2 separate regions of the Homo sapiens genome follow, and region 2 is linked to region 1. Evidence: fine-mapped expression QTL. A gene starts in region 1. The other region holds a variant in brackets. All regions are shown on one strand. Distances are from middle to middle.

The links. PIP is the estimated chance that this variant, and not a neighbour inherited with it, causes the effect. A credible set is the group of variants that fine-mapping cannot tell apart.
Region 2: its variant is the best candidate, but not a certain one, in a credible set for the expression of NEDD9 in whole blood (TOPMed, PIP 0.55).

Annotation. Positions count from the first base shown.
Region 1 is chr6:11,229,166-11,234,544 of GRCh38, forward strand. NEDD9 (neural precursor cell expressed, developmentally down-regulated 9) reads right to left here and starts at 3,503. Exons shown (of 7, transcript NM_006403.4): 1 at 3,339-3,503. The coding sequence starts at 3,350. It overlaps LOC124901256 (a long non-coding RNA gene), which reads right to left and starts at 1,545. Exons shown (of 2, transcript XR_007059449.1): 1 at 1,274-1,545. RefSeq lists silencers at 3,011-3,060, 3,541-3,590.
Region 2 is chr6:11,353,606-11,358,984 of GRCh38, forward strand. It overlaps a transcript of NEDD9 not described here. Among named protein-coding and RNA genes, the nearest start is that of NEDD9, 120 kb to the left of the region's middle. The variant G/A (reference allele first, on the strand shown) is at 2,147.

The DNA of each region.
Region 1 (5,379 bases):
CAGAATGCACCTTTCTTAATGGCATTGTAAGTTCCGTCTGTAATTTTTCTTCAGTCAAAACGTTAAAGAATGAATTTGTTGCATGGTAGACGAGATAAATAATTTAGAATTTTAATGTAGGCACGTAAGGGCTCAGAAATTTGGCAAAGCCACAAAAGCGTCTCTGCTCAGCCATTAGCAGCCAGGCCAAGGGGCCGCTGAGCCCCCGCCCGGGCTGGGCCTGAGGTGGGCGGGGCCTCGGGCCTGGCAGGCACAAACGGGGTGGGGTCTCGGGGGCTTCTGCTCAAACACAGCTGCGCAGAGACCCTTCCATCACCCTCCTGGGAAACAGCACAACCATACACCTCCAGACCCTCAGGAGGGAGCCTTCACTGGGTAAGCAAACCAAGGCCATCGAGGCAATCACCTAACCCCGCCAGCCCCCGCCCAATTAAGAACATGCTCTGTATATGAAGGGGATTTTGTAGAAAATTCTTAATAAATGAAGCCCCCGTAATTTACTATCACATAACCACAGACTGAATCCCTTCTAAGAGAAATGGAAAATTAAGTACGTATGACAGTGACTGCAACCTTCCTGTGGACAAATAAAAACATACAGGGAAATAAAGACAGATTAGATAAGTGCTAACCAGAAATGTCTGTCCGGAGTAATAGCTTACATTCCACAGTTCTCAGGATTACTGCAAGTACCTTGCTGCCTGGCCTGAAGCTATGTATATTAAGTGCAAAATAAGTGAAGGTTTGTTGTTCCGTAGTTGTGATCCCTGGGGCAGCCAAACCAGATAATCAGGTTAACAACGACAATCTTATAGGGCCTGATTCATAAGTCTTTCAGTAAACATTTTAAGGTTTGTGCTAAATTTACAGTGCATAGAGCAACGTAGTATTTTAGAGATAATTCCTGTCTCTGGGATTTTACCATCTAATAATTATCTGGTTTTACTACCTAAGTGGCTCGAATTAAACAAATAACTGCCAAACATGCACTTCATTTTGCTTTGTAGAGTTACTATCTTAAAAAGAAATTATCCTGCAGGAATACTTGGGATGAAATAGTCTTAAACTTTCTGGGAGAAGAAAACACTGGCCATATTTTAGAGAGGTCAACGATAGCTCTTTCTCTTTCTCTTAATAGTGGTTAAAGTCATGAGTTCTGGAGCCAGATCGCCTTAGTTCTAATCCCAGCTCACCACTTTCTAGCTGTGTGGCATTAGATAAATTACTTAGCCTCTCTGTGTCATTTGAAATTGAGTATAAAAATAATACCCACCTTGTAGAGCTATTGGGAGAGTTGAATATGACAATCTTGTGTTGTCACAGTAAGTCTCAATTAATGTTACTTCATTACTTTTGTGTCTCTCCTCTACTTACAATAACAAAATCCTTTCCTGAAGTAAAGTTGTTCATTATTAACTAGAGAGAAAGAAAACTTTATAAAAAAGGAAAGTGGATTTCTTCAGCTATTGGTTGATTTAATAGTCATCATAGGGCATAAGTCATGTGTTCGGTCGGAGAAGTTAGCTTTTTTGCTGGTGAAGGTGCCTACAAGGTAATAAAAATCATGTATTTACATCATTTGGCAAGGTGTTCAACACCAGTAAGGCCCAGTGGAGAAGCAGGTTTCTCCATGAATGCCAATCGCAGTTTACGCTGTCAGTCACTTTATCAGTTGCCTTTAGATTTTCTTTCCATAAAGAGTAAAGCTAACCACGATGAGATCATTGAATAAAAGTGACTTGAGACTTTGTCGCTTTCGTCACTTTCTAGATTATAGCACTCAATGTTAATTTCAGCCATTTATACTTTCCAATAATAGACATATGAACATACTTTCTCTTTTTTCTGCAAGCCAGTTCTTATTCAACAACAGGGAAAGGAGGAGCAAAAAAGTCACTCCAGGCTGAGTAATATCTGGTCCTATCATTGTTCTAAATAAGGAAATATGGGGTGAGCCACTTTAAGGAAGATAACTTTCCTGCCAAGTAGAGGGATTTGTTTCTGGTTGCATCCTAAAGTCAAATATTAATAGTCTTCAGGATGACCCTTTCCTCTGATCTTCCCTACTGATGAAGATAATAGAAAGCTGATGAAACAGAAATAGCTGATACCTGTGTCTTCAGACAGTGGTAACGTAGGCATTACTATAAAGACTTTTGACATTTAGACTTAAAGCTTTTGAATAAGATTCATAGTTTTTGAACAAAAGCTTTATTACTGAGGCTAGTCAGTGGCTATCAGTTAGACCAAGTATTTACAACCTTACATCAAAAAAGGATGGACCAGAAAAATTTAGAAAAAAAGCGAAGTAGCTTCCAGCTAGTGTACAGTTAATATAAATTGTCAATCCACAAGCCTAGCACCCTTGCCCAAATCCATCTTAATAATAACACTTTTGTTTAAAATAGCATAAAATAAAATAGTAGCACTAGCACTCATGTCTATTCATCATTCAAGAAAAATTCATGTCCAATTCATTGCAGTCTGCTTTCTTTGTGTCCCCTGGAAGCTGCTTGCCTCCTTAGATGGGAGTGACTTAAAAGAAAAAGGGGAGGGGGGAATATACGGAGCAAGTCAAAAATCCTTTTGGCAAGAAAAATCCACAAACAATGGTGTAAAATGCATTGGAAAATAATGCTGCTGAAGTACTATGACTATGACACTCTGTAAGCTTTCAGGCACAATGAGCCAGCCTGAGCCTTCGCACTCTCACCCCATTCAAACTCCAATAAAAATGTTTTCAAGAAATGGCTCATACTTATTTATTCCTACATCCAATATAACATAAGGATGTCAAAATTTTCCATCCTCAGCTGTGTAATCTGGGCTTTTAATTTCTCCCACCAAAAGTGCATATGGCATACTCCTTCCGAGACCAAACGATTAAAGCAAAGTCTGGAAAACTTTGCACTAAGAGCCAGTCTGAGACAGACTATGCAGTCCTCATTCCTCTCATTACAGTTCCCCAGGGCAGTGGAAGCCAGGCCTGGGGAAGCCAAGGAGACTTGAGCCAATGCCTGCCGCGATTCAAGTCAGACACCCTCTGATCTCCAGTGGCTGCTGTGAAGCGGCTCCAAGTCTTAACTTCTCACCGAGGTATTTCCCCGGCAACTTTCAGAGCAGATGGACTCGGGTGTACTGTGAACCCCTGGAGTGGGTCTCAAAGACCGGGTCTCTGCTTGCTTGTCTGCTTGCATGTCAACCTCAGTGACCGAGACTCATCTTAGAACTCTCCGGGACACACAAGGGACTGACAGTAAGGAACACGCATACACAAGCACACACCCGCAGGCACAGCTTTCAGCTTGCAAGGTAACCTGTAAAAGGCACTCTCTTACCTTATACTTCATTTCGGCAGCGGTGGGTTGAGCCGTTTTCCTACACTAGTTAAGACAGCATTAAGCACTGCGGTGCCCGCCCCTCCATTGAGTGCAGCGCTAGATGAAAGCGAGAAGGTCCCGGGCAGAGCCGCTTGTCAGTCGCAGCGCCTCCCTCAAGTCTCTGAGCTCACTGTTGTGACTGAGGCAGGCTGATCGCGGACCTCATTTGCATGCCGCCCCGCCATTGGCTAGTGGGACAAGGTAATGCTCAGGCCCTGCCCACCCCTAATTCTGAAAAACTGACAAAGAACTTGTAATGTGATCGCTTCTTTTTGCTTTATCAGACGGTGGAAAATAAAACAGAAAGTGGGGAACCGTCCTGAACCTTACTCTGTCCTCCCGCCCCCGCCAAAAAAGAAGACAGAAAGAGAAAGAACAGGAAAAGGAGATACATTCTTTTTAAGATTAACCCAAATTTTAAAGAAACTGAATTCACAAAAGCAGTCTGACAGTCGCGCTTCCTGTGACCTAGCAACTCCTTCATAAACCCATTTCGTTTCAAAGCCATTCACCTCACAATCTCTACATGAAACGAACTCCGGGAACAAAAGGTTTTCTGTCTCCGGGCCCCTTTTTACTAACCACCCCTGCTGATACCTCTCTCTCTCTCTGTCCCTTTTTCTTTCCCCCTCCTCCCGCCTACTTTTTGTGTGTGTGTGACTGTTTGCTTTTTTTGTTCTTTTCAACGTTCAAAGTACTTTGCGATGTCAGTCTGCAAGGAGCTGGAAGACAATTCTCCCTTAGTGAAAAGGAACCCTCTAGCACACGCACCAGCGTTTTCCTGGACAGCTTCTCACCAGGGCCTCAGAGTTGCGGGTCACACATATTGAGCGACCTTCAGTGGCTTTGCTGAGGATAAAGGTTAGATGTGACCTCTCGGATGGGGTTGGCCAGTGCACGCCCTATACATCATCACCGTCCACTGAGTTCTGTGTTCTTTGACGGCTGGCATTTCTAGCTCCAGCTTTGAACACTGCAGTGTTTTTCCTTCTGACCTCTGTCCTGAGGATGACCCATTAACCCACCAACACTTATTATCCAGGAGAACGAAAATGCCCACTGTTTGATGAGCCTGGTTAAAAAGACCAGTCTCTCTCCAGCGAAGCACAGAACATAATTTCTATAAAGGTTCCATTTTAGGATTTCTATAGAGAAAGAGAATCACCCAGAAAACAGAAATGGTCACCTTCTGCAACTCTTCTCACGGACAGAGCAGTGAGGCGAAAAATTCCTTTTTCCCGGGCAAGACTGAGACTCGGTGAATCCAGACAATAGCTGTCCCTGAGTGGGATGCACTCCAACCAGACTACATGACTTGGATGGAAAAATCAGCCCTTATTTTTTTTTTTCCTGACCAAGTTGGATCAGAATCTGATTCCCTTCGCGTCTAACACACAAATTCCCAATGGATGAAAACTCTACTTTTATGATCTAAGCAAAAGGAATGAGAGAACAGCTGTCCTACAAAAGTGGTTTCCAGATACAGGGTTGGCAGGTTAGTTTGCAGTTCAGTGTGGCACTGATTCCAGGGACATGACCCCCCAGGCCATCCTAATGAGGTTGACATACCTGTTCCAGCCTGTATTAGGCCTTGCTTCTCCTCATTTGTCCTTAGAGCAAAAATAAGCCTGAGTGATTGTGCAAGGCCTTTCTGAACACAAATTAAGCACGCAGCATATTGCATTGTAACGATCTCCTTAAGAATCCTGCAGACTGACCGGAGAGTCGTTAGTTTGCAGGAAATTGTTTTTGGTGTCTACCTGGATAAAGGAGGACAATGATTCAAAGCCCTTCCCATCTGTAAGATGAGTCTTGCGGCCTCCAAGAGATCTAGATAACATTCCTTTGGCTTCCTAAGTGGTCAAGCTGAATCCTTTTTCTGTTTTGTTTGATGAATATCATTGAGTAAGTGAGTGCTGTCCCATCCTATTTTAATGTTTTCAAACAGTTTCCTAAAGTTTGTGCTGGGGTTTTTTTGTAATTTCATTCTCTAGCTAGT
Region 2 (5,379 bases), 120 kb after region 1:
TTTATGGTACTTTGTAACAGCAGCTCTGGGAAGCTGACACAGTGGCCCCACTACTAGTTAGAGTCCATAGGACTGGAAGTTCTATTAGTTTGTAAAATAAACATTCCTAAAGCCCACCTTTAACGTGGAAAACCTGGTGACTCAAATTAGAGATGTATTACATGATTATATAGAAATTGAAATAGATTGGATGGAATAGGGGCAGGTGATTAAGAAGAAAAGAAAATTGCCTAAAAAGGCCCAAGCCACCACCTTGCTCATGGATAAGAGAAAACAACTTGTAAAAGTTGAAAGGGACTCAAATGAATGTCAGGGCAGGAAGAGTGATGGGGGCCATAATTCAACGGTCTTGGGGGAGCTGGCATTTTCATGCTGATTAATCTAAGATTTCGGCTTGAACAAGGGATAAGGTTTACAGACTAAAAATTAGCCACAAGGTATAACTTTACCTCTGGCTTAACAGAAGACTGAAAGAATAAAGCAAGCAGCTGTGTCAGAACTTGCCAGGCAATGTGAAATACTGTGGTTTGAACAAAGCTGAGTTGGGCTGAGAATGAATTACAGGAAGAAAGGCAGGAAGAAAAAGAAAGAGCTCTGGGGCTATTTATTCTTTGTGTACAGGACGCATTGAAGAAAGTACTGAGTCCCACGTCACCAACCCAGCTGGAAAACGTGGGGGCAACCAAAGCACAGAGAACATGAGTCACCAGCTCCTCACTCTCAGGAGCTCCATATTTGGGAGCCCAGCAAAGGGCTTATCATTTTTCGGATGGAGTCCCATGGGTTCTGGGGCTGCTGCTAGCTTCAGCTAAATGTGGTGCGTGTCTTCAAAATTAGAACTGACAATGGTGACCTTGGAGTCTTGCAACCTAGTGTTTCAGGGGAAAATAGTACCTAGATCTCAGCAGAGTGGGGATAGAGGAAGACATGGAGCTGCATGCTGTTGCCCGTGCATCAGCCAATCAGTTGGTCAGCCCTCTTGAACTGTTTAAGACTACCATGGACATTTGCTGTTTTCACCTACCCAGCATCTGTTCCTCCTCTGCTTCTAGGAACCATCTTTTGACTTTCTTTTGGGAGACTTGCATTTCTCTCTTCTTAGACCCTGGTGCCAGGGGTGGGTGCATGGCCACAGTCTGGACAATCAGAGTATTCCATTGTCCTGGGGGCTGCAACTGGTTTAGGGAAGGGTCATAGCACAAGTCAGCCCAAACAGAGTTCATCCTAGGGACTTTTACAAAAGCTACTGGGGACAAGATGCCGTCAGCTGGGTTGCTGGGAGGATGCGGGTGTGTGGAGCTGCATGTGACCATCTTGCTATGGGTTCAAAGAGGGACCATGTCCTGATGAGGTGGAGCCCCTGTATCCACTTGTGCCTGAAGCTCTTTTCTGCTACCCAAGCTGACATACTCCATCCTTTTGTTTTCTTTTACTGGCAAGCTAAAGAGTTCTGACTAATACACAGATCTCAGTAGGGCACAGTAGGTGCCATAGCAAACATCACACAAATATATGGAAGCCAAAGAGAAAATGCATATGGTATGGTGGGTCTGAAGTCAGATAGAGGAGACATGGACACAGGAATAGTCCAGAGTATTTTAGAATACTTACAAGTATTTCAAAACACATAAAATAAGGGTATTACTCCCTTAAATCCTTCTGGAATGAGGGAATAAAAACAAATATGGTTTTTAAAAGGAAACCATAGTAATTTAGTAAGAACTTCTCAAGGGGCTAGAAAAATTTAAAAAAAAATTAAAAACCAATAGTAATTTGAATTCTTCTTGCAGTAATATGGTATAATAGCAACAACAACAACAATAATAAATCAGCCAAAACGCAAGAACTGTGGGTGTCGTGAAGTCTCCGACCTAGGGTGACGAATTCATCCTGGTTGGTCTGGGACTGTCCCTGTTTTAAAACTGAACGCTCTAATTTCTGGGATGCCTTTAGTCTTGGGCAGACCTGAATGGTCAGTCACATGTTTTCAGGTCATTTTACTTTTCTGAGCCTTGGTTTCTTCATCAATGAATGGGGCGTATGTGGCAGGAGGAGGAGGTGGTGATAGAAACATCCATGCTTTTCAAACCATATTTTTGAGAGCTTTAGGTTTTTTTTTTTAATTATTTTTTTGAGACAGAGTCTC[G/A]CTCTGTCGCCCAGGCTGGAGGGCAGTGGCGCGATCTCCGCTCACTGCAAGCTCCGCCTCCTGTGTTCACACCATTCTCCTGCCTCAGCCTCCCCAGTAGCTGGGACTACAGGCACCCGCCACCACGCCCGGCTAATTTTTTGTATTTTTTAGTAGAGACGGGGTTTCACCGTGTTAGCCAGGATGGTCTCGATCTCCTGACCTCGTGATCTGCCCACCTTGGCCTCCCAAAGTCCTGGGATTGCAGGCGTGAGCCACCATGCCCGGCCGAGAGCTCTAGATTTTTACTAAGAGCTGCAACAGCCACTGCAGAAAGGAAAGTATGAAGCAACCTCCACTCCATTTCTGCTGCAGTTGGAGTTTCTCTTGTATGTGTTTCAATTGAGATCTGCCTAACATTTGTTAGGGGAGTGGGGAAACCTGCTCTCCGAGGGACCACCCTCTAGAATTCCATGATTTTTTCTCTTTGTTATGGGGCAAATGGCTCTTATAGACCACTGGTTCCCACACCTGACGGATCCTAAGAGTCACCTGGGAAGTCTTAAAACTAAATACTGCCTGCCACACCTGGATATTTCTACTCCGTTGGAATTGGGTGGAGCCAGGGATCTGTATTTTTACAAAATCTTTGCAGGTGACATACATATAAATTATTCACAAATGTCGGTATGCTAACTATCATTAATAATATATTACTTTCCACACATCTCGCAAATGGCCAGGACACATCATTGTTTGAGACACCATGTTCCCATACATCTTAAATTTTCCGTGCATCAGGAAAGCTTGTTAAAACACAGATGGCTGGGCACCACCCCCAGGGTTTCTGTTTCAGTAAGGCTGGGCGGGGCTGGAATTTGCATTCCTAAGATACTCCCAGGTGGGCATCTGCCACCTTCAGTAGCATCATTTTAGACCACAGGCTCACTTGAGTGTCTTGACTGGTCTCTTTAATCGTTGGCATCATCATAACCCACCCCCCCCACCCTTTCCCCTCCCCCTGGTATAGCACTCAGTAAATTATTGATGAATAAATGTGTGGATAAATGTTTTATGGCCTGAATGACGTGACCTTTCAACCATCTTTCTAAAGAATATTGTGAATTACACCCCTTCGCATGTAAGAAAAGTTTCTGCTGGTATCTAAGGAATATTGTCTCATGGGACCTCAGCTGAGGACATGGGTGGGGCAACAGGATTTCCTGCTCTCAGCTTTAGAGACTGTGCTGAATACAATGAGGTGACTGAGGCCTTCTGTTCCGGAGCCTCTAGCCAAGCCCACTGGGGTCTCGTTGAGCCACCATTTTTTGGAGCTCCATTTTGCTTCGTTTTTCACTTTTGAAGGCCGGCAGATTTCCTTTTCACCCACCAATTCCTTCCAGGCTTTCTTTAGCATGTTGTCATATTTAAGTCTTTAAATTGATTTGCTGGGACATTACACAAGCGTCTTCTGGCTGCTCTAACCCTTTACTCCTGTGGATAAACTTGTCATTATCCCTCTGGAAGCCCCAAATGACCACTCCAACCCCTGCGCAGGCCCTGATCACACCCGCATCCTTTGGCTTGTTTTTCTTCTCCGTTGGTGCTGCCACAGCGGCAGGCAGCTTGGCACTGTCTTTCCACACATCTTCCGTAGTCTGAGAAATGTTTCTTGGACTACAGAGACCTATTCATGGCCACAACCCAGATCTCAAGGCTAGGCACACCCCAAATAAAGTTAGAAAGGAAGAGAAAGCCACTGACCATTATTAACCTCTAAATAGGGAGCGCCCAGTCCAAGTTCTGCAGGAACATTCAGAGGGTGTTTAACTGGCTTTGCAACTTTTATGTAACTACTTGGAATCAGAAACAACACCCAGAAAATAAATACAAATAATAAAGTAACTTTTAAAAAAGATTCACTCTCTTTTCAGGCGCTTGCTTCGGTGCTGATCATGCAGACCTCGATTAATTAGTATTCAGTCCCAATGACCCTAAGAAAACAAGATGTGTGCACAAACAGGCAGGAAGCAGTCCTTGGAAAGAGAGTTTGGTTCTGACCAGAACCTATACTTATGGAGAAGTAATCTTTTCTACGTCAGTTCTACAAGATCGGCCTAGCTGAATGGCAGTGAGTCTGCGGTGATGAGTGAAAGCAGCCTTCCCTGCCTTTCTTCCACCCAGGCAGTCCCTGTGGGTCCCGCCTCCAGAGGCAGCCATTCAACTAAAGAAGCTATGGGGCCGCATGGTGGCTCACGCCTGTAATCTCAGCACTTTGGGAGGCCAAGGCGGGCGGATCACGAGGTCAGGAGATCGAGATCATCCTGGCCAACATGGTGAAACCCCGTCTCTACTAAAATACAAAAAATTAGCCGGGCGTGCGTGCTGCATGCCTGTAGTCCCAGCTACTCGGGAGGCTGAGGCAGGGGAATCGCTTGAATCCGGAAGGCGGAGGTTGCAGTGAGCTGAGATCACGCCACTGCACTCCCAGCCTGGCGACAGAGCAAGACTCCGTCAAAAAAAAAAAAAAAAAAAAAAAAAAAGCAATGGCTCTGCTGTTACATAACGTCAGCAGCACTGTAGGAATAACACCTTTTCCCTGATGTCAGAAGCTGCAGAAACGCCTGCCAGTGCAGAACGCTCCTCCAGTGCAAACTGGTCTGGAAGGCTTGGCCATGTGTGCCCTGGAAAGTTCTGGAATCTTTTTGGTGTTGGATTAATGGCATTCATGTTTCAGAAAACACCTCCAAACCTAGTTAACAGGAAAACTGTTAGAGAATAAATAAAACGGAGCGTTTAAAAAGTTTTCCACTGAGAAGCAGTTTGAAGAGTCAAGTCACCCTAGAGGAAAGCTGGGTATTTTCTTGTAGGTAGCCTTGGAGGCTTTTGTGAACATGGCGGGTGGTGGTTGACAGGGTGGTTGGAGGAAGGAAGAAAAATGACCTGCGTGCCACTCTTAATAATTGCCTCTTGATTTAGAATCAGGACTTTTCCCCCTGGTTTTACAAAATACATGCAGTCTTCCATGTGAAAGATTATGGGATGAATGGTGGGTGGCGGAGTGTTGCAAGGAGAGACTTAAACAACTCTTACCATTCATAAAGACCGAGGAAATTCAAATACTGAGAGAGGGGCTAAGATCACACCATCGGCAGGCAGCAAGAATGAGAAAGGTAGCCTTGCTGTGGCTTAGCTATGCATATTATCATGGGGGAGAGGCAAACTGTGCAATTCTTAAAGTTCATCTTCTTAGT